Linked DNA regions of Homo sapiens: regions 1 and 2 are each linked to region 3. Evidence: fine-mapped expression QTL. A gene starts in region 3. Each other region holds a variant in brackets. All regions are shown on one strand. Distances are from middle to middle.

Region 1 (10,895 bases), 21 kb after region 3:
AAACACCGCATGTTCTCACTGATAAGTGGGAATTGAGCAATGAGAACACATGGACACAGGAAGGGGAACATCACACACTGGGGCCTGTTGTGGGGTCGGGGGAGGGGGGAGGGATAGCATTAGGAGATATACCTAATGTTAAATGATGAGTTAATGGGTGCAGCACACCAACATGGCACATGTATACATATGTAACTAACCAGCACATTGTGCACATGTACCCTAAAACTTAAAGTATAAAAGAAAAAAAAGGGAGTTTCCCTGCACAAGCTCTCTTGTCTGCCACCATGTGAAACATGCCTTTCACCTTCCAATAAACCTCTTTCTTTTGTAAATTGCCCAGTCTCAGGTATGTCTTTATCAGCAGTGTGAAAACAGACTAATACAGCAGCCCCCTGGGATTTAGGAAGTATTAACATAAACTTCAAATATTTTCTTTCTTTTTTTTGAGATGGAGTATCGCTCTGTTGCCCAGGCTGGAGTGCAGTGGTGTGATCTCGGTTCACTGCAAGCTCTGCCTCCCAGGTTCATGCCATTCTCTGCCTCAGCCTCCCGAGTAGCTGGGACTACAGGCGCCTGCCACCACTCCCGGCTAAGTTTGTTTTTCTATTTTTAGTAGAGACGGGGTTTCACCGTGTTAGCCAGGATGGTCTCAATCTCCTGACCTCGTGATCCAGCCGCCTTGGCCTCCCGAAGTGCTGGGATTACAGGGATGAGCCACTGCACCCAGCCAACAGATATTTCTAGCTCAGAGTTCTCTTCCCAAGTCTCTGATGTTCTTGTTTCTATGCCACCCAAGAGGATGGACAATTGGAAGAGACAAATCCAGCCACAGACAGTGCAACTTCACTCAGGGCCAGTGGAGCTCAGGACCTGCTTAGCATTTAGTGCACCTGGGGACCAGGTAGGAGCCATCCACAAGTGGTGATCAGAGCTATTCTGGCAGAGAGGGGAAAGAAGCAAGCAAGGGGGAACTGGCAGGGGTGGGGGGCTGGCCATACATGGAGATACACACTAGCAAGTGGTTAGGCAGCAGCATCGAGGGGCATGGCAGCAAGTACAGGGCTGGGGTTCAGGGACAACTGTCCAGTCCTTGAGTGATGGGAGCTAGCCCTGGAGGCTCCTGGACACAAGGGCAAAAGGCCCTGACCACAGAGCTGGAATCCTCTAAGCCTCCGCACATCCTTAACACTGGGTAGCAAGTGCTTCCGAAATGTGGCTGAAGGTGCAGGGAGCCAGGCAGGTCAGTGGACATCAGCTCTATCCCCTTCAGATACTCAGGCAGGCTCGGGAACACGTGGGCCACATCTGGCTCGGGTCATTTAGTGAAACACAACAGATGCTTCTGCCGGTTTGAAAATTTGCAACTGGCTGGCTCCACATAGCTAACAGCTGGCACTTCCCCACCCCTCCGCCTTCTGCTATGGCCATCCTCATGCATGGCTGTTCTCTCCCTGAAAACCACAGCCTCCTTAAGGTGTGCATTCTTCTGGTATTCCTCAAGGGCTCAGCACTGTACAAACCAGAAATCCAAATTTGCTAAGTAGTAACACATTTTCAAAAATATCAACAGGAACTTTTGATGCTTTAGTTGATATTTTGACTATGAAAATGAGGAATTCTAAAACACAAGAGAAAATAACATTTGATTGTAATTCTGAACTGCATTGGATTTTTATCTATTTATGTTATCCATTTATGATGTGTTTTGAGTGTTTTGCTCTATGTCCTAGATGTTATTTCATTTCTAAAAATGAAAATCATTCATAGGAAACATACAACAGGGATCCTGGTCTGGGTTTTCAACCATTTCTTTTCCAAATCTTCTAATTCAGGTTACAGCAGTGGTTCTCAATGGGAGGCGCTTTTACACGCCCCTCACCCCCGCAGTGGACATTTGGCAATGTCTGGTGATGTTTTTGTGTGTCATGACCGGGAGTGGGGTCTACTGGCAATGAGTTGGTAGAGTTCAGTGTTGCTGCTCAACATCCCACGGTGCAGGGGACAGCCACCCCAGCCACCAAGAACGACCCAGCTCCAGACGACCGTCGTGCTGAGGCTGAGAAACGCTAGGTTGCAGGGATGAAAGAAGCCAGCAACCAATTTCCATTCGTTACATCTGCAAAAAAAGTTTTATTTTACTAAATAAATTTAAAAATCGTGTTCTAGCTTCCTCTGGATTAGGAAGTGTGTGTAACATTGGTTTGCTGTTTCCAAAAGAATTGGTGGGAGAGGTAGAGACTGAAGGCTTGACTTCCTCAGAGCCACTGATAGGGAAAACGCCATCTTCTCAGGGCTGTGAGACACCTGGGAATCGATGCCTTGCAGCCCTGTTCTACCAGCTGGGAGACTTCTGCCAGTTCACCTTCCTGGACCCTGGGTCCCTCATCTGTAATGTGGATTTGATAACAGCATCTACCTCATAGAATTTCCGTGCAAATGAAATGAGTGAAAATATGTGAAAATTGCATGAGTGAAAAATACCTAAAAGCGTCAGCATGCTGCCGGCCGTGTCTGCGTGATGTGTGAGTGTTTGCTGCTGGTGTTATTCACGCATGACATAGACATTTTCCCAGTTAAACATGCTTGTATTCAGATGTTGTGGAAGAAACCTTAAGGATGAGACAAGGAACTGAATATCTCCCTTTTGCCGGTGGGCCCAGCATGGTCAGCACAGGGTCCCTGAGGGGCTTCGTCCAGCTTCCTTCCTCTTTCCTGTTCATACGGTGCCCGGGTGTGCAGTGTGGGTCTCCCAGTGGTGCCCACCTGCCAGCACATTTTGCTCACCTGTCCGACCCGTGGTTTCCTACTTGCCAGTGTTGGCCCCCAGCCCCCTATAACTTGTCTGCTTCCCAATGGGCAGTGGCAAATATCCTCTGCACAAGGAGATACAAAAATCTTGTGTATTTTAATAGAGATTTCATCTCTTTCTTAATGCAACGCAGCTGTGTATATCCTAGATCCATACAGTTCTGGGGGATGGACACTGGTGACCCCTAGCATTATGCTGGGAGTGTTTTCTTGATTATATACCCTGAACTCACAACCCTCACTCCAGCATTCTCCATGTGTTAAGACTAGATATGGTTTTGGATGATACTGACTCAGTTTCCACTTGCTAACGTCCCGAAAAGCTGACTGGCTTCACCAGCCATACTTGAAATACAACATATATGAACAGTCACTAAAAATCAGCAGGTAGCTAAACGTTTTTACTTTTGTCCTTGATGATATTGCCATCGTCTCTACTGTTACCTCCTCCTTCACTTCACTTTTTAAGTGCACTCATTCTGTGAAAACACCTTTTTTTTTAAATAGGGAAAGAAAAATGAATTGACTTGATATTCTTAAAAAATAAAAAGATGACCCAAAATATACAGAACCATTAATATGAAATTAAAGATCTTCTTTCTCAGTGGAAAAAAATTAGAACCACATTGCTGAAGTCTCTCAACATTTCATTTTTAATTTTTCTAATAGTACATTCTTTAAAAGAAGTTAACGACTTCAATTCCAAATATAAGGATTAAATAATGCAATGAAAAGCTGTCATTTTCAGTGAAGCTATTGCCTAATTACCCTGGAAAAAAGTATTCTTATGACTGAACTGATGCAAAAATCCCTTAGAAAAGCTTCATTTGTTGCCTGTAAAGAGTCTTCTTAAGGTCACTTTTACTTCTAGACTGCCCCCTTGTTTCCAGTGAAAGAGTTTTGCTTGGTAATGGCTTGTGGTTCCACAGTGTTTTGTGTATGAAAAGCGTAGACTAAGAGATACTACTGAAGTCGCTCAAATTGTAGATTCTGCCATGAAAGGAAGTCCCAACACTGTAACATTTCCCCTTAATCTTCAGCAAGACACATGAAAAAAAAAAAAAACTCAAGTCCCAACTGAATCTTTACTTTGATCATCACTTCCAGCGGCATTCAGAGGCTGCTGTGCGGTCAGACACAGAGCTCCCTCGAGGCCCCTGTGTGCTTATGAAGTACCTGCAGGTTCTGAGCGTCGGCGCCAGCCCGGGCCAGGGGTCTGCAGACAGAGGCACCTGGTGGCTGCTGGGGCTCCCTGGGGTGAGCCATGGCACGGGAGCCCCTAAGCGCCAAGCTCGCCACGGTCTTCGTCTCTCGGAAGGCAGGGGAAGAAGCAGCGCTCCCAGATAGGACAGAGAAAAGCCTATGAAACAATGCTCTCCAGTCACCAACCAGTTGCCTGATCAGAGCTGGAATTTACTGCTGGGACAAGAGTGCACTCCGATTTGCTTTCATTTTTTCCAGACGCTTCACTAAGTGGCCGTTGCTCACCTCGAGCTCTTCTGTTTTATCCAATGCAGAGCGGAGCTGGGAACGGAGGAAAGGCAGTGAGCTTTAAGGAACTTGTTTCCTCCAAACATAACAGGGTTCTGTGTTACCGAAATTCCAATCCTACTGAAAAATAAAATGATAACTTGGCCCCTGGTCCCTCATGATGCCCTTCCTCCTCTGAAACAACTGGACTCCAGAGAGGGAACACCCTTGGGGATCCTGATGGTTTTCTTTTTTTTTTCTTGAGATGGAATCTCGCTCAGTCGCCCAGGCTGGAGTGCAGTGGCGTGATCTCGGCTCACTGCAAGCTCCGCCTCACGGGTTCAAGCGATTCCCCTGCCTCAGCCTCCCGGGACTACAGGTGTGCGCCACCACCCTCAGTTAATTTTTTGTATTTTAGTAGAGACGGGGTTTTGCCATGTTGGCCAGGATGGTCTCGATCTCCTGACCTCGTGATCTGTCCGCCTTGGCCTCCCAAAGTGCTGGGATTACAGGCATGAGCCACCACGCTCGGCCTCTTTTTTTGTTTGTTTTTTTTTTTGAGACAAAGTCTCGCTCTGTCACCCAGGCCAGAGTATAACGGTGTGATCTTGGCTCACTGCAACCTCCGCCTTCTGGGTTCAAACAATTCTCTTGTCTCAGCCTCCTGAGTAGCTGAGACTACAGGTGCACACCACCACACCTGGCTAATTTTTTGTATTTTATTAGAGATGGGGTTTCACCATGTTGGTCAGGCTGGTCTTGAACTCCTGACCTCAGGTGATCTACCCACCTCGGCCTCCCAAAGTGCTGGGATTACAGGCGTGAGCCACACGCCCAGTGGGGATCCTGATGGTTTCACAAAAGGTAAGTGAGGCATGAGGTAAACAAACACAAACAACAAGAGCTGAGCCTGGACTGCATGGCGAAGGTGGTCCCCACAGCCCTGGCAGCCAGAGTCCAAGGCAGGAATGCCTGAGGCCAAGACGGCCACACCTGGGAGCCAGGGCCATGGAGCCTGAGAGTCAGGCAGAAGACGAGCTGCAGAAGCCACATTAGCAGGGCATCATCTGGACCCACAGGCAGCAGGGCAGAGTGGGGTGCCCTAAGCTGGGAGAACGTGGTTTTGGAGGGGTGACAAGAACAGGGTCTATGGCTCTGCTTTCGACCCAAAACACTCAAGGAAGCTTGTTTGGGTCCTGGGACAGAAGTCCCGACCCCACCTCACTAGCAGAGGCAGAAGCAAGCCCTTTTTGCAGGAAGTTTCCACAAGTTAAGCCTGGAGTTATTCCTACAAATTAAAATCAAGCATAAGCTCACAAAACACTAAGGTGACAAACCATTTGAGTGAGAGTCAACAGAAGCAATAAATGACAGAATTAGACCCCCAAAGACTGAGCATGTTTCAGTTGTCAGATACAGAAAACCAAACAGCTGTGTATGAAATATTTAAAGAATAAGAATACAATTTAAAAAGAGGACATACATGAACATGCAGCAAGAAACTATCAACAATGAAGACACTTTTTAAAAAAAATGGTGAACTGGAAAATCTTTGCAAAAACTTTAGGCATTATCCAATAGAGAGAGGTAAGGAGATAGAAAACATGAAAGAGAGATGGTTAAAAAATGTGGAGACAATGAGAATCTCTAACATCCTCTGATTAGAGTTCCAGAGGGGAAAGTGGAGAGACTAAAAAAGAGGAATTATTTAAGGAGTTAATGGTTGAATATTTTCCAAAATCAATTTTTAAAAAGACTTCACAGATCCAAGAAACACTATATATCTCAAGCAGAAAGATTCCAATAAACTACATCTAACAGTAAAACTGTAGAAAATCAAAGACAAACAGAACCTGAAAGAAACTAGAGAAGAAAAAAAAAGGTCCCTACAAAGGACCGACCGTTAAAACAACAACTTTCTCAACAGCTCAATGGAAGCCAGCAGATGGTGGCATAATCGCTATAATCATTGAGGAAAATGACCACCACACAGAATTGCATGTCCCTGAATACTACTGTCCAAGAACAAGGATGAAACGAAAACATGTACAAACAAAAACAGGGAATTCACCACCAAGAAGTCTGCTCTAAAAGAATTTCTACAGTATGTACTTCAGTGAGGAGGAAAATGATTCTAGTACAGTCTGAGACACTAGCAGGACAGACATATAAAATGGCCAATATGTAGTTATGTCAAACAAACATGGGCAATATAAAACAACAGCAACAACAACACAACAATAGTATTATCTGATAAGTGGGATTTATGAAGCTCAAAAGTATTTATGTGTGGATGTACATGTGTACATATACATATACACATATACACATATGTGTGAGGGTGTGCATGCCAGGCAGGAGGGTGAAGCTAAAGTGCTCAAAAGTCCTTCTATTTTATAGGAGGGGAGTAAAGATAGTGTTCAACTTTAATTTTTTTTTAAGTTAAATAAAAATACCCCATGTGTGATCACTGAAAAGAATAGAAATTGAATATAAAATTTAAATTTGGCAAGAGAAAAATGACACACAAAAGACAGAACAAATGGTTATCCACAGTCAGATGGTGAAAACGAGTCCAAATATACCAATAACAATGGACTAAGGGCTCTATTAAGATCCACAGATTCCAGATTCAACTAAGAGCCACCGCCACCTAGCTATGTGCATCTGAAGGAGATCATCTAACGCATAACAACACACGGAAGACTGGAAGCCAAGGGATGCAAAAATCAGAAGTGGACAAACACTAACCAAAAGAAAGCTGATGCGGCCACGTGAATACCCGACAAGGTCAACAGCAGCAGGGACCAAAAGGGTCACTACAAAGTGATAAAAGGTTTAACTCATCAAGAAGATATCAGAATTTTAAACATCTAGTATCAATAGCCTCAACATATATAGGAGAAATAGGGAGAATGAGATAAATCCACCATCATCTTTTGGAAGAGCTTGACAAATCTCTATCAGCTACTGAGAATTTAAGCAGACAAAAGAAATCAGATCTGAATGCACACTTCACAAGTTTGATCAGTGGAAGTATACAGAATTTTGCATCCATAAATCAGAGACTACACATTCTTCTTAACCACATTGGAGACATTTACAAAAGTGAATCATGTATCAGGCCATTAAGCAAGTATTGACAAATTTCAAAGACCAGGTATAACAGGGACCATGTTCTCTGACCATAGCAAAAGTAGGCTAGAAGGTTAAATGGGCCAGGCATGGTGGCTCATGCCTGTAATCCCAGCACTTTGGGAGGCCAAGGCAGGAGGATCACCTGAGGTCAGGAGTTCAAGACCAGCCTGGCCAACATGGAGAAACCCCGTCTCTACAAAAACACAAAAATTAGCCAGGCATGATGGTGGGTGCCTGTATTTCCGGCTACTCGAGAGGCTGAGGTGGGAGGCTTGAACCTGGGAGGTGGAGGTTGCAGTGAGCCGAGATGGCGCCATTGCACTCCAGCCTGGGCAAGAGTCAGACTCCGTCTCAAAAAAATAAATAAATAAAATAAAAT[C/A]AAATAAAATAAATAAATAAATAAAATAAAGAGGAGAGAAATGGCATCTTTGGTTTCTCCTCCACAGTCCCTTTCCTACAGTTTAAATATAAAATGAGTGATTCTTTCCTTTTTTTTAATGAAAAACGGTCTCACTCTGTCGCCCCATGCTGGAGTGCAGTGGCACGCTCATGTGTCAAAGCAGCTTTCACCTCCCAGGCTCAAGCAATCCTCCTGCCTCAGCCTCCCAAGTAGCTGAGACTACAGGCACGGGCCACCGCACCCGGCTAATTAGTTTTTTTGCACTTTATGTAAAGACAGGTTTTCACTATGTTGCCCACACTGGTCTTGAACTCCTGAGCTCAAGCGATTTGCTCACCTTGGCCTCCCAAAGTGCTGGGATTATAGGCGTGAGCCACCGCGCCCGGCCCGAGTGATCCTATTGAAACATAAATCAACATAAGCCACTCCTTTGCTCAAAACCCTGCAGTAGCTCCCACTTTATGCACAGGAGGATCCCAAGTCCTGTCCATGGCCTCCAGGGCCCTGCCTCACGGGCTGAGGTGCTCTCACTGCTCCCTCCACCCCCTCACCCCCTGCTCACTTGGCCTCCACCGCTCTGACTGTTCCTTGACAAAGGCAGTGCCTTGCCCCGAGCTCCCCTGCACGTGCTGATCCTTTGCGCGGAAGGCTTTCTCCCAGTTCTGCCTGGCTCACTCCCTGGGCTGTTCAGGCCTGTCCTTATATGCCACAAGAAGGAAAGTCTTCCTTGGCCACCTACCTAGAACTGCCCTGGCCTGGGCCATTCCGCACCCCAGCCCCTCTCCTGCCTGTGGTCACTTTTATGGACCTCCCTCTTCCAGAGCACAGGCTCTATGGAGGCGGAGACTCCTGTCTGTAAGGTCACAGCTGCATCTCCAGCACCTGAACCCGTGCCCGGCATGCAACGGGTGCTGTAAATATTTGTTGAACAAACAACTTTGCCAAGTGTCTTCAGTAAGGTAAAGTATGTGTTTTAATTGGCAAGCATGGTAATTTGGGAGTGTGACCAGCAGGTGGAGTAACAGCAGCTCGGCTTCTCAAGGGCACTCTCCATAGGGTGACCTGAGACAGCTGTGGCCTGGCCCTGGTGCCACACCCAGCTCTTGGCCACAGCAGGCCCATGGGCTCCTGGTCCTCCACCTGGGCTCATTCTGCATGACACAAAAAATATTCGGAGCATAAGAGGCCTGGCTACTCCTTTATCTCATTCTCTTGACGTTTACGGACAAGACCTATAGGAGATGCTCAAAACTGACAGATGAACTAGTTGATGCCAGCAAGGGTCTAGCCCTAAGCCCTAACTGGCTGCGCCATGCCTTCCTTTATTAAGACACCGGCACTGCAGAGTGGTGTGGGATGATCTGACAATGACCAGCCCAGGGGCAGATGTCACAGTAGTAAATCCTCTCTGTACCGTCCCCACTAGAGAAATACTGGCAGCCATTCTCTTCCTAGAAATTGCCTAGGAAATTTACCTCTCTTTGGAGTTTCCGTTTTTCTGCCTTAAGTTCATCTTCTATTTTTTCTGCATTTTCAGCCGCTGATTTGTAACGTGATACTTGACTCTCTAACCTTATTACCTAAAAGGTAGAAAAAAAACCATATGTATAAATTGATAAGCCTGTTTTCTTTCTTCAGTTTCTTTACTTTGAGATCAAAGAGTGTGATTTAATAAAATGGGAGAATACACCATGTAAATACTTATAACATTTTGGACTATGGTGTGGGTTTGAGCCAAGCAAGCTATTCTTGGTTACTATTTCTGGGCGACCCTGTGCTGACATGATGGGGACCCATTTCCTCTGACCCCGTCCACCAGGGTGGTTTCTGCAGTGCTGGCACCTTGCTGCCTGCTTCTTCTCCCGCTGCGTGGGGCTGTTCTGTTGGAACAGGCAGAATGGTGCTGGTAAGGGACGTGTTCCGCCACGACCTCAGCTCCAGTCTAATCTCTCCTGGGGTGGCGGGGGTGGGAGGAGGAAAGGACAGGGCGAGGAGTGAAAGGAGGCGGCTTCGGCATGGCATTCCCCAGCCAAGGTTCTGAGATGAAAGACGGCAGCAGCGAAGGCCTGCTGGACACCTTCACTCTGCCGCAATCAAAAGCACACATCGTCTCTACCTGTGCTGTTCTCATTTTTGTTTCTATAAACATTCTAAAAAGTTCCAGCCAAGTACACCCACAATGGAGGGGGAAACAGTCCTGTTTTTTTTCTCTCTTTCTGGCTAGAACACAAATTGCCCTAGGGCCCAGGGTGCTAGAGGCAGGAGTGCCCCATGTCTAGACACCAGGGAGGGCGGGCCTCGCTGCAAGAGAAAGGCTAAAAGCCCAGGCAAGAGGGACGTCCCAGTATGATGTGTTTTTTTAATTAGCTACATTATTTATTTATTTATTTTATTTTATTTTTGAGACAGAGTCTCGCTGTTGCCCAGGCTGGAGTGCAGTGGCGTGATCTCGGCTCACTGCAACCTCTGCCACCCTGGTTCAAGCGATTCTCCTGCTTCAGCCTCCTGAGTAGCTGAGATTACAGGCGCCTGCCACCATGCCCGGCTAATTTTTGTATTTTTAGTAGAGACGGGGTTTCACTATGTTGGCCAGGCTGGTCTCGAACTCTCGACCTTCAGTGATCCACCCATCTCAGCCTCCCAAAGTGCTGGGATTACAGGTGTGAGCCACTGCGCTCGGCCAATTAACTAAATTAATTTTAAAGAACAAAATTTTAAAACACTCCCAAGCCACATTAGCTATTTTCTACAACTAACTGTTGTTGATAAAGGATTAGTATCTACTGTAACAACTTAAATTCTAAGAATTCTTTCCTTCCTGCTTGCTCTGTAAGAAACGGATGGAAAGACTTGCTGTCTTAACTTATCCCTCTTAGGACATTTCTTGGTTCTAAAAATCTCGGCTTTTTCTGGTCCTCAGCCTTTCAGGGCTATTTCTAGCAAGTAAAACTCCAGTCAATCATCAGTTCTGCCCGTTGTTGCTTACACGTACATTTTGTTCTAATGCAGTTATCTCTTGCTCAGATTTTGCAAGTTTAAATTTGAGGTCGCTGATCTGTCTGTTGGCATCCCCTAA
Region 2 (10,909 bases), 33 kb after region 3:
TCATTTGTGTGGATTCAGTGCAGGACTCCGTGCAGGGCAAATTCAAGCTATGCTTTTTGGAACTTTGCGGAATTTATGGGTTTTTTTTTTTTTTTTTTGGAATATTTCAATCCATGTTGGTTGAATCCACGGATATGGAACCCATGGATATGGAGGGCTGACCGTATAGTTGGAATTGCAGTTAACAGTCAATGACTGCAGAACTTTCTGGCATCTAGTTCGTGGGGTCTCCGGGGGCTTTTCATGTTTAACTTCCAATCTGTGAAGAATTGTTGCAGGTGATCACCTGCCTTCCTACCCCACACACCAAGCACAGGAGACCCCTGATTAACAACAAACCAAAAGTGCATGCTGCTTTAAGGAAGTAAGGATAGAACTCAGGAATGCAGTTTCAAAAGATCACAGGAACTTCAAGAGAATCTTCCTACCATATTTAGTGCTTTCTCCAATTTTCGGAGAATCTTCAACAGAATGGTAGGAAGTAAGGCAAATACATTTGATTAGGCTTATGAGGAGAAATTAGAGGAAAGTGGTTGTAGAGTGATTTAATCACTATCCTGCATATAAAAAGATCAGATAGGATAACTGTTCAGTGTTTCTTTGTTTTTGAGATGGAGTCTTGCTCTGTCACCCAGGTTGGAGTGCAGTGGTGCGATCTCGGCTCACTGCAACCTCTGCTTCCCGGGTTCAAGCGATTCTCCTGCCTCAGCCTCCCCAGTAGCTGGGATTACGGGCGCGCACCATCACACCCGGCTAATTTTTGTATTTTTAGTAGAGACGGGGTTTCACCATGTTGGCAGACTGCTCTTGAACTCCTGACCTCAAGTGATCCGCCCGCCTTGGCCTCCCAAAGTGCTACGATTACAGGTGTGAGCCACTGCACCTGGCCTGCTACTTCTTGAGGTAGGAGAGAGCAATGAAGATAAACATGGTTAAAACAACTTTGTTTAGCTGTAACAAAGAAACACCTGTGAGAGAGGGGTGCTGATCACCAAGAGTACAAAACTGACTTTTATGGACAAACAACCCATATGGACAAGAGAAGTGCTATTTGGAATGACTCAGTAATGCTCTTGTCTCTCAACAGTTAATCATTAATATTATTAATAATCAACATTTATATTTATTTTAAGCAGCAATTCAGTAAAATGTACCAAATTCAATTCCATGGCTTTGGGTCTTTGAGACATCCTTATTAAACCTCATATGACTCAGGATGTTCTCTTTGGATGAAAATATTAACTTTGATGTTCTATTTGGATAGCAATCTTAAGAACACCAGTTGGCTTGATAAAGACTTTCAGACATGATTAACTTAGGGGTTTTCTGAGTAAGCAAGAAGGAAGGATGGGCAGGTGGTTTCAGGTGCCCTGTTCATGAACCGGTAAAGTAATAAAAAGATTGTTACCTGTTCCAATAAGCATTCCCGTTCATCAACCAGCTTTTTCAACCTAATATCTAAAGAAATCACAAAGACACAGGTTTAGGTGAATCCGCGTGCCGCGCCTTTCAGCACATTGCTAAACTGAAGAATGATCGTTCAGGTTAGTGAAATGAATGATGGAAGTAGTTATACACGTACCACGGTGAATGAGGCCACAGACAGGACGGGGTGAATGAGGCCACAGCCAAAGGAGGTTGGGTCAACCTCCCAGAACATGCTTCACGTCAGGGGCAGCATCCGGCTGCATGCAAACAGGCTGCTAATCTTCTACCTTAGGTTAGCATGCAAGAACGCTAGGGCCAAACCACGCTGCAACACAAGATCTCACAGGCTTCATGGTTTAACATTATTAGCAATGTACAAACACCGAGAATCACAATTCAATAGCACCAACATTTTGAACAGCCTCGCCTTTCCGAGTTTACATCCCAGATGTATTTATCTTTCTAATTTCCCTCATAGACTCATCGATGTCAGTGCCATGAGTATCTGTTTACAACCCTAAGTCCACTAACACCTCTGCTAACCCAGTTACCAAAGCTGTTATTCTTTTGAGGAAGAAGGCAGTAATGGTTTAAGTGTCTGTAATTCCTCCTGGACCCGATATATAAGGATGCATAAATGTTAAGTGTCTATAAATTCCCCAAACATCTCTCTGAACGAGTGTCAAGTATTAGAGTCTTCAGACTGCGGGGGAAACCACGGCTAGGGGAGGGTTTAGAGGTTTGGGCAAAATCCCACACTAGTTTAAAGGCACAGTCAGAATGCTGGAGTGATGACAGTGATGATAACGTATGCTGCACACTCGCTCTGACACAGGTACAGTTCTAGCAGCTTCGACATCATTAGCTCGTTTCAGCCCCAGAAGCCCTATGGGTAGGCTTCATCATAGCCTCCTTCTATAGATGAGGCTCAGAGGCCCAGAACCACTAAGCAAGTTTCTTCAGGCCTTGCGGCCCAGCCACGGGAACACTCCCCTAAACACTGCACCCGCTGTTTTTCCAGATCCAAACTCACACGCCCGAGTCAGACCCTGACTCAAAGCTCTTAGCTCACTAGGACACTGCTGTCATGCGGCCTACCTCCAGATTCTTCATAGAATGAAAAACTAACCTTGATTAGCCATGTGAAAAGAAAATAATTCATATAAAATGCATCTTCATTTTCATTTAAAAAATCATCTAGCCACATGCTAATCCAAGTTACATTTTTCTCTAATTATGTTTTCCAAAGATCCTAAGTTGTTTTGAAAGGCACAGTAAACACCAGATAATGTTAAGCACAATATAAATTAAATTTATCATCCTTTTGAGTTCTATTTTAATTTACAGTCAAATTACTTCTGACAGATGTTTTACTCGCTCCCCCCCATAACCCACCCAACATTGAAACAAAACATTTTTGCAGTTATGAACCTGATTCTTTTGCCCAATATCACTTTTCATTTTCTTACATGTTTTAATACTCCTACATACAAAAACTACAGGCGTCATAAGAAACACTGAATACACCAGAATGTGATCTTGAAGCTCAAGTATCTATTGTACAATTGTTATTGTTTTCTTCTAGAAAACTTCAAATATTCTACATAAGCACTAGAAAATAAGTGTTAAAATGTAATAAGAGTGCAAGCAAAATTGATATAGGTAATCTGACATTTAGTTGTATAGTGAGAACATTATAAATAGAGAAGAAACTTTTCAGGAAGAGAAATTCTAAAGGAGACTTGGACAAGAAAACAAGAACGAAAGAGTTTGAAGAAAATGGAAAAAGAAATGAAGCAAAATAATTTGACATGAAGAAAATAAAGAGTACTAGTTTTCGTAGCGTTAAAAACCACCAAGTCTATATTGTTGAATAAATAGTGGCACATCACC[G/A]GTAGACTTATAGTGTCTGTATAGCTGGGAAATTTTTCCCTGTATCAGCCACCAGCCATTCACATGTTGAAAAATATTTAAGAGAGGCAGTAGATAGGGACAAAAAGAACAAAAGGATTTTCCTCTTGAAAGACAAAGTTTTCTCCACGTACAACTATCACACTGAACAAGTACATATTCTGAACATAATACATGCACACACAAACACCCCTCCCTTTCCCTTAGGGGCCCAGACGTTTAGAACAAATCTTACTGTTGTGTTCCCTTGGCTGGTGGCCACGGGTGGTACGCTGTACAGGGTTGGGGGGTGGTCTCCCAGAAAGGGAGTCTATGAATAGAAAACAGGAGCCCCAAACCATCTAAACTCCCCAGAATTAGCATTCAGGGTCCTAGTGATAGTGGAAACTTAAGTGTTCAGACCATTAGGTCTCCGGTTAATTACAAATATGGAAAGTGATCAGGGTCACACATTTCTTTTAAGGTCATACATTCTTGAAAACTGTTTAAAAATTTGATTGCTGTCCCAACTTTGTATAACAACCTATAAGTAAAAATCCATCTTCCTCTATATTTTTGACATACACCCATAATTATACTTAATTATACTTTTGAAGGAAGATTTACATTTATATACGGGAGCTATGTTCTGGTTTGGGACTGAAAAATATCCAAGCTTTTTGATTTCAGGTGTCAGTAACCAATGTTTTTCTCTATTCTGTATGATAGTGAAACCCCAGTGGTCTAGGTTCGTCTGGGGATATGGCTGGCAGGCAACCTTTCAATTCTTTTCTGAGTTTGAATCTTTTGACACTATAATCTTTCTAAATTGCTCTATATATTTCTATACCTTCTTATATGGAGTATAGCTAAGTCAACTTTCTTTTTCTTTTCTTTCTTTTTTTTTGAGACAGGGTTTCACTCCATCACCCAGGCTGGAATGCAGTGGTGTGAGCACAATTCACTGCAGCCTCGACCTCCCAGGCTCAGGTGTTTCTGCCTCCTAAGTAGCTGGGACTACATGGGACTACATGCACATGCCACCATGCCTGGCTAATTGTTTGTATATTTTTTTTGTAGAGATGGGCTTTCATCATGTTGCCCAGGCTGGGCTTGAACTCCTGGGCTTAAGTGATCTGCCTGCCTCGGCCTCCCACGTGCTGGGATTATAGGCATGAGCCAATGTGCCCGGCCTCAACCATTTCTTGATAAGTTAAGGGCCTTCACAGTAATATCAATTACTGTGCTTGGCTATAAAGTCATTACACTGGAGAGCATATAACTGATGCTCAGAATGAAGGCTCTGAAATCATCGAGAAATGGTTTGGCTGCTCAGAACTCTTTCTTTTTCCTTCTTTCTTGCTCATGGATTTTCAGCTGTCCATTCCCTACTGGAGGGCTGGGTCCAACTGCTTGTTCACTGGCACAGTGCCTTCCATGTACAAAGTGATCAAACCTGTCTATTAATTAAGCAAATGAGTGGTGAATCACTGAGACGGCTGGATGGCTGAGCTGAGGGATGTGATGTGTGCCCAACGTCCTGCAGGGTGCTGGTGAATAACATGAGAAAGAACTTAAAATGGCTTGATGATCTCACCATTTAGTGACCTTGGTTGTCACACTGCTTTCCAAGAGCCCTTTAAAGGTAGGAATGAGAGCTGTTTCCAGTATGCATTCCAATAGGAATGCAGCTTTGCTAAAGTTAGAGACATAAACTAAAACCCTGTGAAGTCCTATAGAGCCCTTGGACTTATTTCCTAGCAAGCATTTATCATCCCCACCATCCTCTACTTCAGGACACTTGAGCAGAAACAGTCAAGGTTTTTGCCGTTTTCATCCTGCTCTTCAAAACACTGTAAGTAGTGGCGCAGGTAAGCACAGCCACAGGTGAAGACCGTTTTCAGCTGAGGCTGCACATCAGAACCACAGATCACAGGGGATGGTGCGTGACAATCGTCTCAGTTCTCCCAGTAATGCCCATGCTAGCCCCAGGCTCGATGCCAGGAGGGAAGTGCATTCCTTACTGAGGGAGGGCATCAGGCGTGGGTCTTCCACGGAACCCCAATAGGAATCAGCAACCCCCAAGCAGATATTACTCAAAGGTGGTATTACATACAACAGTAGTCAGACTCAGACTTCAAGCAGCCCAAAGAGTGGAACCACAGGCTTGCACAATTATAAAATGTTTTTATTTCAATTACATAATAACACGTTTTCCTCAAATTTTATTGAGGTTTTGGTCTTTTTGCATTCAATTCTATCTTGTAACAGTAATATGAATCCACATAATTTCATAAAATGTCAACAACATTCATAAGGTACATTCCTTTGTGATTTTATATTTTACAATTTTAAATCTAACTTTACAATTATTTTAAAAAATTTTTTTATATAGAAAACAGATATTTTCTTCAGGCAGATCAAAACAAGAATTTTCCAGTAAGAATATACTGGGACATAACAAATGAAAATATTTATACCAAAATACCAAAAGTGATTCAGCTCTTTAAAATATCCTACTATAGTCTAATTAGTAGCTTGTACAAGAACAAGTAACCATTTTTTACTGCTCTTTTGAATGATGATTAGAAATTCAAACAAAGTATTTTAAGGTTCAAAAACTTTTTTTTTTTTTTTTTTTTTTTTTAGAGACAGTGTCTCACTCTGTCTCCCAGGCTAGAGTACAGTGTGCAATCATAGCTCACTGCAGCCTTGAACTCCTGGCCTCAAGCAATCCTCCCACCTTGGCTTCCCAATGTGCTAGGTTTACAGGCGTGAAAACATTGTGTTGTGTGTGTGTGTGTTTTTTTTTTTTTTTTTAGACAGAGTTTCGCTCTTGTTGTCCAGGCTGGAGTACAATGGCTTGATCTTGGCTCACTGCAATCTCTGCCTCGCAGGTTCAAGCGATTCTCCTGCCTCAGCCTCTGGAGTGGCTGGGATTACAGGCGCCCACCATCACGCCCGGCCAATTTTTTGTATTTTTAGTAGAGACAGGGTTTCACCATGTTGGCCAGGCTGGCCTCGAACTCTTGACCTCAGGTGATCCACCTGCCTTGGCCTCCCAATGTACTGAGATTACAGGCATGAGCCACCACGCCCGGCCAAAAACATTTAAAAAATGACTGTCCCTGCTCAAATACTGCAGTAGGAAATGTAATTTGACATATATCACTTCCAGAAAAAAACTTTAAATCTTTCTATAAAATGAATTTGATACATCATCAGCATGAAGTGAAGTTAAAATCTCTTACAAAGTAAATTCAGGTATATCAACAATGAGATCCAAAAGTATCGGTTCAAGATCAAAGACTCATATGAGGTAAAGGCAAATAAAGCCCCTCATGCTTTCAGACATTTACTTGTTATCCTTAAAATGATTATTGTTCTAAGGTGCAAATCTTATCATTCAGTGACCTATTTGCTATTTGGCTGTTTATCTCCTTTAAATAAAATACCATACAGGTTATAATGTACATTTTAAAATCAAATATGAAAGTACACATATGTGAACAAGACATTAATTTAAATATCAATTATATTCATAATACAGAAGTCTAAGAATGCTATTTGGTCATTTCAATTAGATGCTGATATATTTGGTCAAGAAAACCCACATTCCTATCAGCCTAAGGCAAATAGTAAATGCCTCTATTTTTATTAAGTGGACTATAAACAGTAGACATTATTGTTTGATACTACTGGAATGCTCTCAATTAGAACGTACACTGATAACAAATATGTCTTTCTAATCTGGGTGATAACCTCAATGATTACATGGAAATCTACAAGTAACAGTCTATAACTTAAAGCAGTAGAGCACCTGGTAATTGTCATACAGTGCCTCTCTATGAATTTAGAACATTCTACTTACATTGGCAGTGGAGAGAAAAGACCCCTTCACACTGAGACTTCCTGTGCACCGCGCCTGCCGCCTGCCTCAGCTTAGGACATGGTACAGTCTTCTTTGCTTTTGCCCTTCTCATTCCCTCCTCTGGTATCTTCTCTGCTTTCTGGATTGAAGTGCCCTGGCTCTCTTCCTGGTGCCGACAAGTCATCGTTCTCTAGGCTATTGCTGTCTAAAGCTTTCCTGACGGTCTGACTTGGATGTTCTGACATCTCACACCTCTCTGTACTTTCTGCTTCACAGGCATCACTAATGTCCTGTGAGGGACTTTCATGTTCGGGCAGGGTGCAGCGATCTGCGTCTTCGCTCTTTGGTTCTGCAGGACTGCTTTGAGTGGCACCATCTATTTTAGCATTATCTTTTGCAACACCTTCATCTAATTCTTCACCACCAGCCCTCGGGCCTGATGATTGAACGGTGTCATCCTCAAAATCTAATGTGTCTCCATCAGCTAGTACCTCCTCAGCTGCTGTTTGTACATCATCACCTTCTTGGTCAAGTTTTCCATCCAACTTAATTTTAGGATTCTCCGGACAATCAACATTTTCACTGCTTTCTGCTGCAATTTTCTGTTTTGGATTTTCAGTCACCTCGTTTTGGGCTTCCACTGCTGACTTTCTGTCAGTAGACTTTACCTGCTCTTCTTCCTTAATTTCACTTAAATCTGTGTTCTGATACGTTAACTCTTTTTTAACATCTTTAAGGGTTTCTACGGGTACTGGGGATTTTTTCTTCTTGTTTTTCTTTTTCTTGTTCTTTGTCTTCTTCTGCGATGAGTCCAATGCCTCTCCCTGTTGGTCACTCTTTTCTTCATCGGGCTCTTTCATATCTAAGGGTTCATTTTGAGTGTCTACTGTACTTGGACCTGTCGCTTCCTGACAGTTGCCCTCAGTTCCTGCTGGAGAACCAGGAACTTCTGTCTTGATTGGTTTCTCGTCCCTTAATCCTGTTTCTTCACCCTCTTCTTCGTTGTGATCCCTACCTACTTCTGTACTGTGCGCTGGAACCTCCTTGGGCTCAGCTGCTTCCTGGTTGGTGAATTCTTTCTCTAAACTATGCCCTGTGCTTGTCTCTAACTCTTGGGGGACCTCTACCATACATTTGTCATCATGATAAACTGTGTCATCACTATGCCCTAAAGGACACGAGGCCACTGTGCCTGCCTGCTCTTCAACCTGAGTCACTGCTGCCTCTCCCACATTCTCTGTGTGGTTCCCACCATCTAAGTCACTCCAACAGTTGGATGGCTCAAGGGGAGTTCTGGTCCTGTCATCTGGTGCACCCATGACCTCATTTGACTCAACCTGTACTGTGTTTTCAGGGAGAGAACTGCTCTCAAGAATTTGGCTTTGAACCTGTTCCTCATAGGTAGCACCTGCTAAGGTTCCTAGGAATGGGGCAGTGTCTTCAGAGGATTTCTGGTCCTCGGTATTCTCACCAGCAGGGAATACCTCTATGTCCACACAGTCCTTCACTGTGTCCTCTGTGTGTTGTTCTTTCTCAGTATTGTGCAAGATTTCTCTTTTCCCCACATTCGCCACGATTTCATTTTTCACCTCCACTTCACTGGCTCTTCCTAAAAGACCATTGAGAAAATTGAAGGGACCCCATGATGTGGCGGCCACATAATCTACATTAGAATGTAAACACACGTTCCAAATCCCACCCACCCCTATTCCTAAAGACAGAGTCATCAAAGAGTCATGAGAAACAAGCCTTTGCCAGTTCTGTGCGGCAAAGCAGCAGTTGCATTAGTAAATTTTGGGTCAGTGAGGGCCACTGCCACCACATCAAAGGCCAGAGTGGCTGCTGGTGCCATCTTGTGTGGACAGATTTTTAAAGGTGACGTTAAGTTTCAACAAATAGAAAGAACTCTGGATCAGGCAGCCAAACAATCCACAATGATGGGTTTAGGAACAGACTGAAGGTTCAATTCCCCACTCTCACTTCTCAATGAACAACTTGACAACTTGTACTTTTGCAGCTGTCAAACTGCACTCCATGTCACACAGCCCTAAAAGCAGCTTTCAAGTAATTTTTAAAAAGAATATTCAGTGCACTTTTAGAAATGCAGCCTCAAGGTCAGTCTCAAGGAAGATGCTTTTGAAATAGCTCATATGAAAGGAAATCTATCTTCTGCCACTCAACTATTGTTTTCCTGAGAAAACACCCTGTGTCCATGCCCTGATACCTCTGCTCCATTCCCTAAGGGACTAGGGAGAGAGGACCAGCAGGAGGCAAATGTTCAAGATCAAGATGACCACTAAATTAAATGATAAATTATTCATCGTCTAAAGAACATCAAACTGTTTTGGAATTTTTGGACTCTCCAAACAAAACCCCAGCAGATTAGATATGGTACTATGTTACTGAAAGTCAAAGCTAGATAATTTTATAGCCCAGTGATCTCCATGGTGGGGTGCCCATATCCCAGGGAAAATGGGGGAAATATTAGGAATTCTATTTAGAGTTTTACTCTAAAACTTCTTTGCATATCTTTGCATATATTTTATAACGTACATTTTATATTAATGAAATAGTATACATATGTAGATTTAAAATAAACATACATATTGGATCCTACAATTCTTTGCTGAAGGAATATGTGATCAAAAGTCATTTGAAGGCCACTTTCAAAACTGACATTTCTGGTTCTTACAACATTTCACAATGGTTATCAAAGATTTATAAAATGTGTATTTGAGTAAGAGCAGCGTAATCAGATTCCTAGCTGTTCGGGTAGCTCATATAAAGGTATGATGGAAATTGATTAATTTATCTTTTCTCAACAACGGTATATAGATACTACATACCTATCTAGAGACGGAATCTTGCTAGGTTGCCAGGCTGGCCTGGAATTCCTGGTCTTAAGTGATCCTCCAGCCTTGGCCACCCGCAGCGCTGGGATTAGAAGTGTGAGCCACTGCACTAGGCCACAACTTTTTTTACACAATTGAAAAGAGCTGTGTTTCTTTAATAGTCATAAAGATAATGAATGAGGTACCTCCCTGGAATGCGAGGCCTGAGAAGATGGGGCCTGGAGGTGTCTACATTTCCATAAATAAAAAGAAATAAGATGAAAGCTTCTACATTAAAATGAAAAGTCACGGACCCTGACCTTATTCCAGCCTCTTTGTAAAACACTGGAACGCAGAGGGTGACCAGTGACAGATGAGGCCTCACTTGCACGCTGCAACTTCAGGCTGCACGCCAGAATCTGAAGGTTTCTCCCAAAGCCAACTCTTATGACAAATTATGACAAATCAGATCATTGAAAATGGTATAAAATATTCCTCTGATCTACTGGATTCCCCAGTTTTATATTCTTTCAGAAGCAAACACGTGGCATACAAAGGAGGATCCCCTCTGACAAAGGTGGGCATACTCAGACTCTCAGCACCGCCACACCCACTACCACGGCCGCCTGCCCACCTCGAGCGGTGGCTTGAAAAAGGCAACACAGACGGACCTGCTGTCCACAGGCACCCCGTACCCTCAAAGCGCTGAATGCTGCCCAGGATGTCGATGTTGGCTTGCAAATATGGCCAACTGACTTGACGGCCTCAACCATTCTGATCTTTTGATAATTCTGTCATAGAATCGGTTTAAAAAGCCACACTTTATAGGTACAGATATATATGTGTCTGAGGAAAACCAAATAGTACTCTCCACATTGTTACTTAATTT
Region 3 (10,909 bases):
CAACCTATAGAATGGGGGAAGATATTTGCAAACTATGCATCTGCTACCTATAGATTCTGGCCTAATATCCAGAATCTATAGGGAATTGAAACAAATCAACAAGTGAAAAACAAATAACTTTATTAAAAAATGGGCAAAGGACATAAACAGACACGTCTCAAGAGAAAACATGAGCAGCTAACAAATATAAAAAAATGTTCAGCATCACTAATCATCAGAGAAATGCAAATCAAAACCACAATGTAATTAATACCATCTCACACCAGCCAGAATGGCTATTATCAAGAAGTCAAAAAACAACAGATGCTGGCAAGGCTGTGGAGAAAGGGGAACTGTTGGTGGGAATGTAAATTAGTCCAACTACTGTGGAAAACATTCTGGAGATTTCTCAACTTAAAACAGAGCTACCATTTGACCCAGCAATCCCATTACTAGGTATATACCCACAGGAAAATAAATCATTCAACCAAAAAGACACATGCACTTGTACATTCATCACTGTGCTATTCACAATAGCAAAGACATAGAATCAACCCAGGTGCCCATCAATAGTAGACCAGGTAAAGAAAATGTGGTATTGGTCAGGCGTGGTGGCGCACGCCTATAATCCCAGCTCTTTGGGAGGCCGAGGAGGGTGGATCGCCTGAGGTCAGGAGTTTGAGACCAGCCTGGCCAACATGGTGAAACCCTGTCTCTACTAAAAATACAAAAATTAGCTGGGCATGGTGGCACACGCTTGTAGTCCCACCTACTTGGGAGGCTGAGGCAGAACCCCAGAGGTTGCAGTCAGCTGAGATTGCGCCACTGTACCCCAGCCTGGGTGACAAAGCAAGACTCTGTCTCAAAAAAAAGAAAAAAAAAAAAGGTCTAAGGCATATTCAATAAATGGTACTGGCACAAGTATATTTCTACTATCTAGATTTTTACCTAGAGGGAAAAATTGCCTGGACCCACACCTCACACCACAATAAAAGTGAGATGAATCATATTTTTAAATGTGAAAACCAAATTTATAATGTTTCTCAAAACACAACAATATATTCATGACTTTGGAATAGGCAAAGATTTCTTAGAACACAAAAGGTGTTGATTTAAAAGTTGTTGATTGGGATTCAGCAAAATTAAGAAACTTTTCCTCATCAAAAGACATTACTTAAAAAATGGAAACACAAGCCAAAGACTGGAATAAAGTATTCACAATCCATATATCCAAAAGGAGACGCTTATTCAGATTACATAAATAACTTGTACAAATAGATTTTTTAAATTGCTTATAGGTATGAAAACATGCTCAACATCATTAGTCATCAGGGAAATGCAAATTTAAACAACCACGGTACCACTTCACATTCATTAGAATGGCTTAAAATTTGTGTGTGTGTGTGTGAGTGAGAGAGAAAGTATGTGTGTGTGTGTGAGAGAGAGAGTATGTGTGTGTGTGTGTGTCTCGCTCTGTCACCCAGAGACAGAGAGACTGTGTGTGTGTGTGTGTCTCGCTCTGTCGCCCAGGCTGGAGTGCAGTGGTGTGATCTTGGCTCACTGCAACCCCTACCTCCCAGGTCAAAGTGATTCTCCTGCCTCAGCCTCCTTTGTAGCTGGCACTACAGGTGCACACCACCACACACAGCTAATTTTTGTATTTTTAGTACAGATGGGGTTTCACCATGTTGGCCAGGTTGGTCTTGAACTCCTGACCTCAAGTGATCCACCCGCCTCGGCCTCCCAAAGTGCTGGGATTACAGGCATGAGCCAGTGCACCTGGCCAAAATGGCTTTTAAAAGAGTGCTAACACCAGATATTGGTGAGGATGTGGACAAACTAGAATTCTTATACATTGCTTGAGGGAATACAAATTGTTAAAACCATTTGGAAACCGGGCAATTTCTAATGGTGTTAAATACATGTCTACCCTATTACCAAGCAATTACATTTCCAGTTTCAGAGACGAATACCTTTCTTTGGAGAATCACTCTTTAATATATTATTCAGTAATGACTGAGCCTGTTTTCTAAGTTATATGTTAAGTGTTGAGGACAGAGAGGTGATCAGTCACTGGCTCTATGAAGCACAACAGGCATACAATTTCCAAAAGGGGGATGGATGCACATAAATCTTCTATAAATTTAGAGTATGTTTTCCCAAACTTACCTGATATAAGAATCACTTAGGGCGCTCATTAAAAATATAGATTCAACAGCCTAATTTGGGGCCCAGAAACAATACTCGAGGACAACAGTCCACAACCTTTTTGGTACCAGACACCGGTTTTGTGGAAGATAATTTTTCCACGGACCAGAGGATTGGAGGTAGGGTAGTGGCTTCAAGCTGAAACTGTTCCACCTCAGATCATCAGGCATTAGTTAGATTCTCATAGGTAGCACGAAACCTAGATCCCTCACATGCACAGTTCACAACAGGGTTTGAGTTCCTATGAGAATCTAATGCTGCTGCTGATCTGACAGGAAGCAGAGCTCAGGCTGGGGGTTGGGAACCCCTGCCCTAAGTAATTCCTACAATCTGGATATTTTGAGAAACACAAGGTGGTATGGGAAACATACAAGACTTAACCTAGTCTAAGGATTAGTGAAGGCTTTTCAGAGAGTTACTTAACCTCAGATCTGAATGATGAGTAAGAGTTAGCCATTGGGGGTAGGACTCATTTAGTATTGATTTTGACTGAAAGGATAAAATGTAACATGCTCAAAAATATATTTGGAGTTTTTCAAACTGCTAGTTGTTTTTAAAAAGCAATTAATTTTATGTTCAAATCCTTGATAGAAAAAAGGAAAAAAAGCAATTAAAAACTAAAATTCTCACCAAGAAAAATATAACCTGTACCTACTTTGGGATTCACAAAGTTAAATAAGACAATTGGGGTTAAATAAGACAGTTAAGTAGACAATAATTGTATAGCACAGTTGCATTAATAAAGGTAAGGAAAAACTTATCAAAAAAGTAAATGATGGTCAAGTAGGGGCTAGCCAGGCTAAGAAGAAGCAGAGAAGGGCATAGAGCATCCCAATTTAAGAGGACAAATATGGAATGGCTCCAAGTTAAGAGTCATTCCTTCTTCTTAGATTATAAGATAACTAGAGTTATTATGTATAAAAATGAACTGGTCTGGCCAGGTGCGGTGGCTCACAACTGTAATCCCAGCACTTTAGGAGGCCGAGGCAGGTGGCTCACTTGAGCTCAGGAGTTCCAGACCAGCCTAGGCAACATGGTGAAACCCCTGTTTCTAACAAAAATACAAGAAATTAGTTGGGCATGGTGGTGTGAGCCTGTGTTCCCAGCTACTTGGGAAGCTGAAGTGGGAGGATCACTTGAGCCCAGGAGATGGAGGTTGCAGCGGGCCAAGATAATTCAAATACATATATATTTGATACATTTGATTGTTCAAAATATTGTGTGTATATATTTAAGTCAGGGTCTCACGCTGTTGCCCAGGCTGGAGGCTGGAGTGCTATGGTAGCAACACAGCTCACAGCAGTCTCAACGTCCCTGGGTTCAGGTGATCCTCCCACCTCAGCCTCCCAAATGGCTGAACTATAGGCATGCACCACCATGCCTGGATAACTTTTTTGTAGAGACAGGGCTTCACCATGCTGCCCAGGATGGTCCCCTAGCCCAAGGGATCCACCTACCTCAGCCTTTCAAAGTGTTGGGATTACAGGCATAAACCACTGCACCCAGCCCGCTCTTCATATTCTTAAAAAGTATTGAGAACCCCAGCTGGGCGCAGTAGCTCACACCTGTAATCCCAACACTTTGGGAGGCCGAGGTGGGTGGATTACTTGAGGTCAGGAGTTTGAGACTAGCCTGGCCAACACGGTGAAAACCCGTCTCTACTAAAAATAGAGTGGGCGTGGTAGTGGGTGCCTGTAATCCCAGCTACTCAGGAGGCTGAGCCAGGAGAATCACTTGAACCTGGGAGGCGGAGGTTGCAGTGAGCCGAGATCATGCCATTGCACTCGAGCCTGGGAAACAAGAGTGAAACTCCGCCTCAAAAAAAAAAAAAAAAGGATTGAGAGTCCCAAGGAGTATTTTTTTTTATTTGGGTAATATCCATCAATACTTACCATATTAGAAATTAAAGCAACATTTTCAAATATTTATTAATTTATTCATAGAAAATACATTCGTTACTTAAGTAAAATTTTAAATTAAAAACATATTTTCAAAAAATTGGTGAGAAGAGCAACACTATCTCAAGCTGGATTCTCATTCACATCTGATTCTACACTCAAATCTGCATTTAATGAAATCTGCAGTGTGCTGCAAGCTTCATTCTTAAATATGAAGACACCCAAAGTTAAAAACGTTTGCCAAAGAGAAAATTTTAGTATAACGGAAGTACTTGCAGATCATGTATGCGATAGAGGTCTATTATCTAGAATATAGAAAAAACTCTTACAACTGAACAATAAAAAGGCAAACAACCCAATATTAAGAATGAGCAAATGACTTGACAAAGAGGATATACAAATGGCCAATAAACACATGAAAATATGCTCAATTTATCAAGAGTCATGAAGGAAATGCAAATCAAAACCAAAAGATATCACTTCACACCCACTAGGATGACAATAACAATAACAGTAACAACAGTGTTGAGCAGGTCATGGAGAAATCAGAACCTTCATCCATTGCCGATGGGAATGTAACATGGTGCAGCCACTCTGGAGAAGTCTGGCACTTCCTCAGAAAGTTAAACACAAGACAACCACATGATCCAGCAATTCCACTCCTAGGTACATGCCCATTTTTATTATTTTCTTTGAGTTCTCACTTACCGAACTATTTCCTCCAGTGCACGAAACTCCAGGGAATGGTATCGCCAGAAACCACAGGACTCGCCCTTGACACCTCCCTTATCCCTGAGGTCTTGTCAATTTTAACTCCTGACTCTCACAGCTATGCAGACAATCACCTCACATCTGGCCAGAATAATCTTTCTAAAATGCTTATCGAATCAGTTACGCTCCTGCTTAAAACTCAGCAACGGACTGTCACTGTTTTCAGACAGATTAAAATCTGAATAAGTCCTGTAAAACCCTACAACGGTCCGGGCTCTGTGTTAGCCTTGGCACTTGGTGTCTTCCAGATACACCCTCCTTTCCATTTCCTTAAAAAGTCAGGCCCTGGCCGGGCGCGGTGGCTCACGCCTGTAATCCCAGCACTCTGGAAGGCTGAGGCGGGATGATCACGAGGTCAGGAGATAGAGACCGAGATCGAGACCATCCCGGCTAACACGTTGAAACCCCGTCTCTACTAAAAAAATGCAAAAAGTCAGGCCCTGTGCGTTCTCTCGCCTGCCCACCCCCTACCCCACCTTGAGTTCACGCTCAACTTCAGATCTCATCTTAAATACGCGCTTCTTAGGGAAACCGTCCGGGCACCTCACACTAGGTCAGGAGCTGGCGCCGTCCTCCAGGGCGTCCTACGCGTCGGTCAGGGGCACACACGCCTGAGTACGGAACGAACTTCACGTCCCCCTCTCGCTAGAGTCCCCGCCCCGCAGCAGAGGCTCCATCAGTCTCCACGGCAAGAAGAAGCATATGTGCGAATTTCTAGCTTTCCCCGGGGACATAACCAAGTTTGGGAGACCGGCCCCGCGACTTCGTTCGAGAACGACTTTTGCGGTGTCGGCGCCCGCTATGAGGGCGCCGGAACTCCAGTGCCGCCCAAGGAACGCGCCAGTCCCCCGCCCGCCTCGCTGGCCTCGCCTACACCGCCGTTCGGAGTCCCCGCGTGCTTCAGCGGGACGGGCCTCGCCGCCGGGACCGGCCACACGCGGGGTTCGCCAACCCCGACCGCTCAAGCCCATGGCCTCGCCCTCGCCGGCTTCGCCGCCCGACCTGCCGCCCCGCGTCTCTGTCCGTCGCACCTCGGATCCGCTAGAAAGCCGCCGCCGCTGCCGCCTCCACGGGCCAGCGCCCCGCTCTCCGCAGCCGCCTCCGAGTCAGTGGCGCCACCGGAGCAGCCGCGGCGCCTGTTGGGTAACAGTCACCAGCGGCCCGCCCACCGCCTGTCGGGCAGTATGAAAAGTGCGGCACTGTGATTGGCCCAGCCTGTGGGCGCGAAAGCGCGGGAAGGAGGCCGCCTGCTTGAATGTTGCACGACGTAGAAGAGATTGTGGGCGTCTGTCTTGGAGCGCAGAGCGGCCCCCAAGACTTTCCCGCTTTGCAGCCTGAAACCCTCGTCTGGACCGCGCAGCTCTGCAAAGTCACCATATGAAAATACTTGGAAGCGCTGCTTCTGCCAGCAGAGGCCAGACTGCCCCTCGCTTGGGTCCGGTGCAGGCCGAGTCCTCCGCCCTCAGAGGCGGGACAGGGGCCCGGCCTCCTTGCCGAACTGTTTCCCAGGCCGCGTGGTCCCTCCCGGGGTTTGGCTTGTCCTCTGCCCATCTTCTAGAAATACCGTTAGCAGGGTCGGGCCGCGACTAGGGTGAGGCCAGTGAGGCATTTGTCATGAGCACAGGATTTCAGAGGCTGCCAAAATAGCAATCAAGATAAATAATATTTTAATGCAGTCTCTAAAAAAAGTCAAAAGTAATGAAAAAATTCAGTCCTATTTTTTCCTTTCGCCTCAGACTCTTAAAATGGCTCCACAGGGTACATTGTTACTGGTCCTGTCTTTATTTAAAATTTGAATATTCTGGGCTGGGCGCGGTGGCTCACGCCTGTAATCCCAGCAGTTTAGGAGGCCAAGGCAGGTGGATCACCTGAGGTCAGGAGTTCGAAACCAGCCTGGCCAACATGGCGAAACCTCGTCTCTACTAAAAACACAAAAAATAGCCGGGCAGGTGTGGTCGTGGACGCCTGTGATCCCAGCTACTCGGGAGGCTGAGGCAGGAGAGTCGCTTGGATCCAGGAGGCGGAGGTTGCAGTGAGCTGAGATCACCCTGTTGCACTCCAGCCTGGATGATGACAGAGCAAGACTCCGTCTCAAAATAAATAAATTAAATTAAATTAAATTTGAATATTTTATTATGGATTTTTTGCATTAATTTCGATTTTTTAAAAGATTGCATTAAAAGATTACTGAGTTTTTGCATCCCCTCCCCTGCCCCCCATGTTTTGTGCCTAGTCTTATCCTTGATAGGGAATTTAAACCTGTATAAAATGACACAGTCCTGAAGGGGTGGGGACAGGATAGAGCTGCAGGTGGCTTCATTTGCTTATTAGTCTAAACATGCACTTGATTGTTGGGCCACGGAGGACTTTGGATAGGTGGCAGATAGAGGAGGGGCTCTAAAACTGCACCTACCCCCAAATTATCCCCTCAAATGAGGCTGCAGTCTCTGAAATGCACTTCATTCATTCATTCATTCATTCATTCTGCAGATTGCTATTGGCCTGCCAGGGGCCAGGGGCTGAGGGTGCAGTGGTGGACAGTGGACCGTGAGCATGGATCTTGGGATAATGTAATACACTTATCGCAAATCTTGCCATTACCAAAAGTGCTTTCAAGTGTCTTTTAAAGTGATATGGCCTGTCCTTTTACAGTGGATTTCATTTAGAAGTCCCTATGTTATTGGAAGTTAACGCCAGTGGCTGGAGAGGGCGGCCACGGCAGCAGCAGGCCAGAGCTGCTGATGAGATTATGAGGTCTGGCCTCTGTTATAGAAAGGGGTTCAGATTGAGGCTCACATTAGAAGGCTGGACACTCTCCCCTGGGCTGCTGGGCAGATGGCATCTGGAGCAGGACTGGGCCATGGTGACCCTGGAAGGGGTGGCTCTGGAAGTGTGTCTGTGGGCCAGCAGCCCTGATGTCAAGACAGCTGGAAACCACGTTCTACTCTAGACCCTTGGCGTTTCTCCTTTGACTGCTCCACCACAGTTAGAATTTTGAGAAATTCCTCTCTGAACAGCCATTTGCCAAATGCTCATTTCACTGTTAGTCTCCTCTCCACCCTGTGGGTGGGTACAACACAGAAAGAGTCAAATCTTTCATTTATCAACCTTTTAAACCATCGAAGACAGTGATCATGCCATCCTTAGGGAGGATTATTGGGATTCAGGGAATAGAGATGAAATGTTGTGTTATGAGTGGATGGGCTGAGCACAGACATCACATGTGTCACCAGGCTACAGAAAAGGTAAGCTGTGCCGGACAGTGATGCTGTGCTTACAGGCAAGCCACTGAGCAGGTGGCAGGAGGGGCTGCCGGTTGTTGGCAGGGAGGCGGGTTGAAGGGCAAATGGGCTGTTTGCATGAGACACACCAAGCCTCCTGCTACGGCAAGGGGAAGAAACATTCCCACTTAAGTGACCTCAGCTGTTTTTGTTTAACTGTGGGATCCAGTGTCCTTGTTTTGCCTTCCTCTGGGCCCTTTGAGGTGTTTTGTTTTGTTTTGTTTTGTTTTCGAGACAGCCTTGTTCTGTTGCCCAGGCTGGAGTGCAGTGGCACAATCTCGGATCAATGCAGCCTCCACCTCCCCAGTTCAAGCGATTCTCCTGCCTCAGCCTTCCAGTAGCTGGGATTACAGGTGCCTGCCACCACGCTCAGCTAATTTTTGTATTTTTAGTGGAGATGGGGGTTCCACCATGTTGGCCAGGCTGGTCTCGAACTCCTGACCTCAAGTGATCCACCCGCTTCGGCCTCCCAAAGTGCTGGGATTACTGGCTTGAGCCACCGCGCCTGGCCTCTTTGAGTTTTTTTTGACACTGTCTCCAGATACTCCCCATTGGCCCTAGGGCATGGGACCCTTGCTCTTCTTGGTCAGAGTTTCCTGTGTCTGTGTATGGAGCTAGTGGTTCTGCCTTTTCTGCCAGGCAGCTCTGCCACGTTTGGACTTACGTAATTGATTTGGGGATTATATTGTTTTGATGTGAAATTTTACATTTTTATGAAATCCATCAGTCTCTTGGCTGGGCGGGGTGGCTCACGCCTGTAATCCCAGCACTTTGGGAGGCTGAGGCGGGTGGGTCACGAGGTCAGGAGATTGAGAGCATCCTGGCTAACATGGTGAAACCCCGTCTCTACTAAAAAATACAAAAAATTAGCCGGGCGTGGTGGCGGGCGCCTGTAATCCCAGCTACTCGGGAGGCTGAGGCAGGAGAATGGCGTGAACTCGGGAGGCGGAGCTTGCAGTGAGCCGAGACCGTGCCACTGCACTCCAGCCTGGGCGACAGAGCGAGACTCCGTCTCAAAAAAAAAAAAAAAAGAAATCCATCCGTCTCTTTGTCATTTATTTTCAGTGATATTAGAGATGCTTACTCCAGCTCAAGTTCAGAATAAACATATTCGTACAATAGTATTTTCTGTTGTTTTTGTTTTTGTTTTTAGACATGGTCTCACTCTGTCACCCAGGCTGGAGTGCAGTGGCACGATCTCGGCTCACTGCAACCTCCGTCTCCTGGGTTCAAGCCATTCTCCTGCCTCAGCCTCCCGAGTAGCTGGGATTACAGTTTTGCACTACCGCACCCAGCTACCATTTTTTAGAGATGGGGTTTTGCCATGTTGGCCAGGCTAGTCTCGAACTCCTGACCTCAAGTGATCTGCCCGCTTTGGCCTCCCAAAGTGCTGGGATTACAAGCGTAAGCCACCATGCCCAGCCACACAATAACTTTGATTTGTGCCTTTTATGATTTGATTTTTTACACTTTTTTTTGCTTATAACTTTGAAATATTTAATGTTATTAAAGTCACATGTGTTTAATGTAGAAAATGCAGGAAAGGGTGAAAAAGAAAATAGAAATCTCCTATAATCCCGTTTCTCACAGAGCCTCACTGTGGGTGTTTTCGGGGAGCTATCTATAGAGAGAAACCATGGAGCTACTCTCCCACATGGACTGTGATGCCTTTCTACATTTTTAACCTCTCTATTCAGGAGCCGTTAAAATTTTTTATTCCGCAAACACCTACTGAGGTCTTGCTCTGCATTAGGCAGGCCATGGAATGAAAAGCTTACAGCAGTTCTTGAAGAACGTACAGTATAACTGATACCACACAACTTAGTGGGGGCTAACACGTGTGGAATAGACAGGATGCAGAAAAGGGCGGCGTGTTTGTAGAGCAGTCTCAATAGCATGGAAGCCACACCCTGGGAATCCTCAGGGAATGCAGAAAATAAGGCAGAGCAGAGTAGCTGGGCCCTTTTGAGCAAGGCTGGGTCGCCCCATTGCAGGGGCCTATCCTTGCACCTTTGTAACACTGAAAATACCTGGCAGAGGCCCCCTCAACTGTTGTTTTATCAAAATCATCTAGTCTAGTTGCAATGTTGGTTTTTTTAAAACTTCCAAGTGAATATTAGAATAATTTTGTTGTTGGCCAGGCATGGTGGCTCACTGTAATCCCAACACTTTTGGAGGATGAGACAGGAGGGCTGCTTGAGGCCAGGAGTTTGAGGCTGCAGTGAGCTCCGTGTAGTGCAGTACATGCCACTGCACTCCAGCCTGAGCGAGTGAGATCTTTCTTTTCTTAAAAAAAAGAAAGAAAAAAAAATAATAATTTTGTGAGATTACCTCCCCAAAAATCTCAAAGGGGTTCTCATAAGAAATGTATTAAATCTGGCGGGGTGCAGTGGCTCACGCCTGTAATCCCAGCACTTTGGGAGGCCAAGGCAGGTGGATCATGAGGTCAAAAGATCAAGACCATCCTGGCTAACACGGTGAAACCCCGTCTCTACTAAAAATACAAAAAATTAGCCGGGCGTGGTGGCGGGCACCTGTAGTCCCAGCTACTCAGGAGGCTGAGGCAGGAGAATGACGTGAACCCAGGAGGTGGAACTTGCAGTAAGCCGAGATCGCACCACTGCACTCCAGCCTGCCTGGGCGACAGAGCGAGACTCATCTCAAAAAAATAAAATAAAATAAAATAAAAATAAGAAATGTATTAAATCTATAAACGTGAAAGTTATATCTTTATGATATTTATTCTTACCATACATCTTTCTACAGTTTTTC

What was found. PIP is the estimated chance that this variant, and not a neighbour inherited with it, causes the effect.
Region 1: its variant is the best candidate, but not a certain one, in a credible set for the expression of RBM44 in subcutaneous fat (FUSION, PIP 0.57).
Region 2: its variant is the best candidate, but not a certain one, in a credible set for the expression of RBM44 in sensory neurons (Schwartzentruber 2018, PIP 0.89).

The regions. Positions count from the first base shown.
Region 1 is chr2:237,772,862-237,783,756 of GRCh38, reverse strand. It overlaps LRRFIP1 (LRR binding FLII interacting protein 1), which reads right to left. Exons shown (of 24, transcript NM_001137550.2): 22 at 10,812-10,891; 23 at 9,295-9,399; 24 at 2,114-4,335. The coding sequence ends at 4,225. Among named protein-coding and RNA genes, the nearest start is that of RBM44, 20 kb to the left of the region's middle. The variant C/A (reference allele first, on the strand shown) is at 7,799.
Region 2 is chr2:237,760,492-237,771,400 of GRCh38, reverse strand. LRRFIP1 (LRR binding FLII interacting protein 1) reads right to left here. Exons shown (of 24, transcript NM_001137550.2): 20 at 1,409-1,458. Among named protein-coding and RNA genes, the nearest start is that of RBM44, 33 kb to the left of the region's middle. RefSeq lists a silencer at 8,760-8,972. The variant G/A (reference allele first, on the strand shown) is at 3,322.
Region 3 is chr2:237,793,840-237,804,748 of GRCh38, reverse strand. It overlaps RBM44 (RNA binding motif protein 44), which reads right to left and starts at 5,970. Exons shown (of 16, transcript NM_001080504.3): 1 at 5,888-5,970.